Linked DNA regions of Homo sapiens. The protein of the gene in region 2 purifies or fractionates together with the protein of the main gene of each other region. This does not show direct contact. Each region holds a gene or a part of one and is shown on either strand. Other genes may lie near its edges. The genes, in order: DERL1 and CYBA.

Evidence for each region.
Region 1: the proteins of CYBA (region 2) and DERL1 purify together in Homo sapiens (affinity purification with western blotting; one study listed by BioGRID). This does not show direct contact.

The regions. Positions count from the first base shown.
Region 1 is NC_000008.11:123,032,063-123,035,880, reverse strand, and holds part of DERL1 (derlin-1), read left to right. Parts: intron 1-3,818. UniProt on the Homo sapiens protein: Functional component of endoplasmic reticulum-associated degradation (ERAD) for misfolded lumenal proteins. Forms homotetramers which encircle a large channel traversing the endoplasmic reticulum (ER) membrane.
Region 2 is NC_000016.10:88,645,104-88,648,053, reverse strand, and holds part of CYBA (cytochrome b-245 light chain), read left to right. Parts: coding exon 1-9; intron 10-878; coding exon 879-953; intron 954-1,215; coding exon 1,216-1,299; intron 1,300-1,856; coding exon 1,857-1,938; intron 1,939-2,624; coding exon of another isoform or gene 2,625-2,888; exon of another isoform or gene 2,889-2,950. UniProt on the Homo sapiens protein: Subunit of NADPH oxidase complexes that is required for the NADPH oxidase activity that generates, in various cell types, superoxide from molecular oxygen utilizing NADPH as an electron donor.

The DNA.
Region 1 (3,818 bases), on a different chromosome or scaffold from region 2:
CTTTTCATACTTTAAAAAAAAAAACACTAGATTCTGGATGGCAAATTATTTCAGTAGCAGATTGTTTAGAAGATTTTAGCTAAAGGATGGCTGCAACCTACACTCTGAAGTTGTTGGACTAATAACTGAGGAACAATGTCTTATGTCTTCTTTAAGGGTGTATATAGCAGTGAGCACATGGGCTACATGTCCTTGTTAAGTGAGGAACTCTAATTAGGGCCCAGCTTTCCTCCTGAAAAAACTGGGATCATTATGGGCCTGGCCTTGAGGTTGCTGTGGACTTAAAATGAGATACTCCCCCACGAGTCCTCTCAGTAAGTGTGAGGCAGGCAGTCCTCTGTCTGCAAGTCGTGGCTCTTTGTGCTGCAGTTGGCTGCCTCTTAGGCTTTCCAGGGTTGAAAATGGGCCTCTTCACTCCTGGCACTGAACGTAAAGCCAGTTCCTTCTCCTTACTGTTTACATATCAGGTCGAGGAAAAAATGGGATTTAGTTGGATACTTACAATGGGGATTTCCGAAATATGTTACACTGTGTCCTTCTAAAGAGATAAGCTGTCTTCTGGTGTTTTCAGATTATAATTTTAAAGTAACACAAAAATAATATTAAGTCTTTTAGATCAATGAAAGCAAGTATAACTCAAGGGTAGGCTTAATGAACAGGGAAAAGAAGTGAGATATTTTGACAGACACTGATTTCCAAAGAACAGGTGCAAACAGTGACTAAAAATAGTCTTATGTCATCAGCATTAGAGAAAATGTAGTCAGACAAAAACAAGGTTTCTTTTCCAAAACCAGGCCTTGAGTAACTTATAGGAATATGGGGGTAGTTGAAATATGAATTTATAAAAACTGGTTAGCGGGTGTTTCCGAAAAGATTGTGATAATACAATTAACACACCCACACATATTAATTCTTTTTGCATAGTATCTTTTTAATTCACTTTCTTAATTCCAACCTTTTACAAATCCTGTAAGATAAGGAAGGCAGAAGTCATAGGATAATGTCATTGGGTAGATGATGAAGCCAATTTGACGTCCATACTTTTCCAAGGGTCCAGGGCTACCTAGAGGGTTTGCTTCTGGTCTTTACTCCCAGTCCTTTTCTTAAGCACAGAGAATTAATTAGTAGGTTTACTCTGAGTCTATTTCAGGATTACACAAGTGTCTGTAGTAGTGAACACTTACACTAATTGTAATTGTACCTCATAATACTGACGCCATTTGTGAGAGGGATTGTAAAAATAGGGGCTTAGTATCACAAACTCTGGAGTCAGACTGTCTGGGATAAAATTCTAGCTTCACCACTTACTGGCTGATACTTAACCTTTTCTCATCCTGTTTCCTCATCTATGAAATCCGTCTCCTGAATCAGTGCGTGTAAATAAGCTGAGTAGCACATTAATTTATTGATTTCTTTAAAAAAATTAACTATGGAAATTGAGGCTCGGAAGTGGTGACTTATAAGCAAAAACTTAAACCCAGGTCTTCTCAAGTCATCTCCAGTTCCCTTTCCACTAAACTATCCTGTTTCTGTGATAAAGTTGTGAATGAATCAAACCAAATGTTAAACTATTTTATTTTTCTGGTTTAATACACGTTTCTTGGAAAGTCACTTTTTTGGTATGCACATTGCATTTCCCTCTACAAGGAATTAAGCTCTGAGGGTTACATTCCTGTACTTGGAGAATGGAACTGGCCAGTCTGTATGTGGCCAGTCCCCGTGACTGACGTCCTCCATTCCAGCCACACTTGAATTGTTAGCAGTACCCATTCAGTTATTGTGCTCTTGCAATTCTTGGGGCCTTTGTAACAAGTCCACATGTCCCCTCCCTTGTGCCAACCCTTTCTTCCTTTGACAGCCTTCCCCACTACTCTGAGGAATTCAGGGGCCATGTCTTTTGTGCTTGGTACATGCTAGTGTGCAATGAGATAGACACATATCTCTCACACCAAAAGCCAGCATTTTGCTGCCATTTCCAAAAGTTTAGGAAGGCCATCTGCTTCAATCACTATTTAGCATTGTTCTGGTGGGGGTGCCAGCCAGTGAATTAGACAAGAATGAAATAAGATACAAAAGTTTATTTACAGCTAGGGTTGTATGCTTGGAAAGCCCAAGAAGCTCAATTTTCTTTTTTGTTAAGACATAGTTTCGCTCTTGTTGCCCAGGCTGGAGTGCAGTGTTGTGATCTCGGCTCACTGCAACCTCTGCCTCCTGGATTCAAGCGATTCTCCTGCCTCAGCCTCCCGAGTAGCTGGGATTACAGGCATGTGCCACCACGCCCGGCTAATTTTGTGTTTTTAGTAGAGACAAGGTTTCTCCACCTTGGTCAGCCTGGTCTCGAACTCCCGACCTCAGGTGATCTGCCCACCTCGGCCTCCCAAAGTGCTGGGATTACAGGCATGAGCCACTACTCCCGGCCGAAGCTCAATTTTCAATATTGTAGGCAGTAAGATACTCAGCTTTTGTGGTTAAGTATAAAAAGGTAGAAAGAGATAGCTCTATAGACAACTCTAAAAGCTATGAAAAACTTCTTGGCTGGGAATTATATCAATATCACATGGATATAATAAAAGAATGGTTCTAATTCATTTAGAAAAATAAAATATTGAGACTAACCAAGAAAATTGTGACAATTGTTGAAGAAAAAAAGGGGGAGATATTATTTAGCTGTTTAACTTTACCAGCTATTAAAATATGTTATAAAAGGAATAGAAACTAGGCTAGGCCCAGTGGCTCATGCCTATAATTTCAGCACTTTGGGAGGCTGAGGTGGGAGCATCATTTGAGGCTGGTAGTTTGAGAGCAGTCTGGACAACATAGGAAGAGCCCGTCTCAAAAAACAAACAAACAAAATTACCAGGTGTGATGGTACATGCCTGTAGTCCTAGCCACTTGGGAGGCTGAGTGGAGAATTGCTTGAACCCAGAAATTTGAGGTTACAGTGAGCTGTGGTCAAAACACTGCGCTCCAGCCTGAGCAACAGACTGAGACCTTGTCTCAAAAAAAAAAAAAAAAAAGAAAATAGAAATTAAAATAACTTGATATTGGCATAGGAACCAATTCCAAACAGAATGGTGTTAAAATAGACCTACATGTAAAAGAGACTAGAGTATAAACGTTCAATGAAAGTAGTTTTTCAAATAATTGGAAAAAATGTGGGTTACTCTGTAAATGGGGTTGGGAAAACTGGGTGACTATTTAGAAAAACAGTTGGATCTCTTCCTCATTCCTTGGATGCACCTTGAAAGTGCTAAAATAAAACCATGAACACTTACATTCTTGGAGCGAAAAGACTTTCTAAACATGACACATCATGGATACATATGCCTACATTTAATTAAACTTTTGTATGTCAAAATATGGCAAAAACACCATGAAAGTCTAATGACATCAGAAAATGCTTGCAATGATGAGAAAGAGAAATTTCATAATGTATGAGGAAATGCAGCCAGGTGCGATGGCTCATGCCTGTAATCCCAGCACTTTGGGAGGCCAGGACAGGTGGATTGCTTGAGCTCAGGAATTTGAGACCAGCCTGGGCAACATCAGGAGACCCTGTATCTACAAAAAATATAAAAATTAGCCAGGTGTGGTGGTGCATGCTGGTAGTCCCAGCTACTTGGGAGGCTGAGGTGGGAGAATCACCTGAGTCCAGGAGGTGGAGGTTGTAGTGAGCTAGGATCATGCCACTGCACTCCAGCCTGGGCATCAGAGCAAGATCCTATCTCGGGGGGGAAAAAAAAAATGTAAATCCAGAAAAACAAATGAATAAAGGAAATGCTCAGGTTTTTAAAACGTGAAAAGGTGCTTGACTTCTC
Region 2 (2,950 bases):
CTACTCCATGTATCCTTCCACCTGAGGCTGGGGTGGGCGGGGAACGCCCAGGGCAGAGCTGGGGAGCCACTTCACAGTGAGCTGTTTGCCTCCGCTCCCCACCACCGCAGCCAGGCTGGGACACAGGGTGGGCTGTGCACGGGTTGGGCAGCCCAGGCCCCAGCAGCCAGGCCCCTCGCCAGGACCATGTGGCGATCAGCGGCAGACCCGCCAGTCTAAGTCCTGGTGAGTGGTGGGCAGGGGGTGTCACCAGAGGGCCAGGGCCAGCACTGAGGCCTCCCTGTTGGACTGCTGGGATCCCCTCTGCCCGCTCCTGTCAGTCATCCCCCTTGACCGGCCCCTCTACCTCCTCTGCCCCATCTCAGCCCTGCCGCCCAGCCGGACCTTGCGACAAGGAGCACTGGGCAGGGTGGTGGGAGGGAGGGCGTGGGCAGCCCCGAGTGCCAGACCTGTTGGAACCTCCCGTGGCTGCCTCCTGGCTCTGTGACCTCAGGCAGTGGCTGCCCCCGACCTTTTTTGAGACAGGGTCTCGCTCTGTCCCCCAGGCTGCAGTGCAGTGGTGCAGCTGTGACTCATGGCAGCCTCCACCTGGGCTCAGGCCACCCTCTTACCTCAGCCTCTGGAGTAGCTGGGACCACAGGCACACACCACTGCACCTGGCTTTTAAATTTTTTGTAGAGATGAGGGTCTCACTATGTTGCCCAGGCTGGTCTCAAACTCCTGGGCTCCAGTGATCCTCCCGCCTCAGCCTCCCAAAATGCTGGGATTCCAGGCATGAGCCACCGTGCTCGGGCCCCTCTCTGTGTTGTCTTCAGTAAAGGGAGTTCCCTGTGGCCCCTCAGGCTGAGCTGGGCTGTTCCTTAACCACATGGCTTCAGTGTGGCGGGCGTGTTTGTGTGCCTGCTGGAGTACCCCCGGGGGAAGAGGAAGAAGGGCTCCACCATGGAGCGCTGGTGAGTCTCCTCCTGCTCTGGGGTCTCTCCGGGGGCTGCGGGGCCCAGGCAGGGCTCACAGGGTTGGGTGGAGCTTGGTTTCTCACTTGGAGGCTCCGGAACCAACCCTTTGGTGCTTGTGGGTAAACCAAGGCCGGTGCCTGCCCGGTGTGTTTTGTGGGAGGAAAGAGGCCTGGGTGCCCTGGGGTGGTCAGCAGGGCAGCAAAGGAGTCCCGAGTGGGAGAGGCCCAGCCGCGCCGTCTCGCCTTCCTCCCTCCCCCAGGGGACAGAAGTACATGACCGCCGTGGTGAAGCTGTTCGGGCCCTTTACCAGGAATTACTATGTTCGGGCCGTCCTGCATCTCCTGTGAGTCCCCGTCCCGCACCCCCTCTAGGGCTCAGGAGGGCTTGGAGCCGACCCTCCCCACTGTCCCACCGGCCGGGCTGCCTGGACAGGAGCCACCCCCACTTACCTCAGTGTTTTTCCAAACAAAAATTCGGGTCCCTGGCTCTGGCAGGGCCTGTGTCTGCTGTCTAGTGTGCAGGATTTGTAAGGATCCACTCCAAATCCGAGGAGCTCCGATCCGTCGCCAGGGTCTGGGGTCAGCATGCACTGCTGGGGGGTCTTGCCTGGGCTTCCTGGTAGGGTGGAGGGTTCCGTGCTGTGTGTCTGCTGGTTACTGCCGGCTGAGGCCAGGACACCCACACGTGGCTGCTTCCTCCGAGCAAGTGCACCAGAGCCGCTAGTGTCCACATCAAGGCTGAGAACACCCAGGACCGAAACAAGCCCCGGTCCGCGCACGTCCCCTGGGTCTGCAGTCTGCCTTGTCCTGAGACTTTGTGGCCTTGGCCCCCAGACCTGGGGCTCCGTTCCCCTTTCTGAGTGCCCTTCTGTGTCCCTGCCTCTCACCCGCTGTCCCCCAGGCTCTCGGTGCCCGCCGGCTTCCTGCTGGCCACCATCCTTGGGACCGCCTGCCTGGCCATTGCGAGCGGCATCTACCTACTGGTGAGTGGCGCCCTCTGAGGTCGGCCCCGGCCACCCCCATCCCCAGCCCCTGCCCTGACACCCTCGGACACGCATGGCCCTTGAAGCCGGCTCTGTAGGCTGAGCCAAGGCTGGGAGCAAGTGTGAGCCTGGGCGTGTGCTCACAGCACGGCGGGGACGCAGCGGTTGCTGCTGCCATTTTTGGCGTGTCTAGTGTGTCGGGTCATTTCCTTGCATTTCCTCATTAACCCGCACCACAGCCCTGGGAGGGGTACTGGGGTCCCCACTTTACAGACAAAGATGCGGAGGCTCAGGGAGGTGCTGTGACTGGCCTGGGGTCACGCAGCCGGCCGAAGACCGTGCCTGCGCTTGGGTCCCATTATCAGGCTTTTCTCACCTAAACCCTATTCGCGCTGATTCATGGGCGGTGCCAGGACGCAGACATTTTCTTAAACTGCCGACACCTGCGTTTGGTTTATGACTGCTGCACCCTGTTAGAAGGCTGCCCATCCCATGGGATACAGTGATCTCTCTGAGAGGCCAGGGATGGGTGGGAGGACAGGGCGCAGCCTGGCCAGGCCTTGGGTGAAATGCCCTCTGCCTGCCCTGGGCTCCGGAACAGACGGCTGCAGGCCACCTCTCACTGCGGGGGTCTCTGGGTGGACAGAGCCCTCAGACTTTGCTTATTTAAATCCTTTTGTCCATAGAGCCAAGTCCCTCCTGCCCGCAGAGGCAACTGCCCTCCCCTTGCTGTGCGTCTTCTAGTGTGTGTGCGTGGGAAAGGTGCAGCACTTTCTGTGTACGCCTTCCGCGTATGGAAGTGGAGTTCTGTTTCAAGCCTCACTGACCTGCCACCGGCAGAACTCTCCTTTAGAACCCCTTCCTGTTGCCAAGTGCTCATCTGGGCTGTTGCTTTGTTTTCCGGGGGCCACCCGCATCCCCCCCGTCTCCCTGCTGCCACGCACAGCTAGTGGCTCCTGGAGACCTCGGGAGGAATTCCTTGTGCTAAACCCAGAGAGGAATTGCTGGGTCA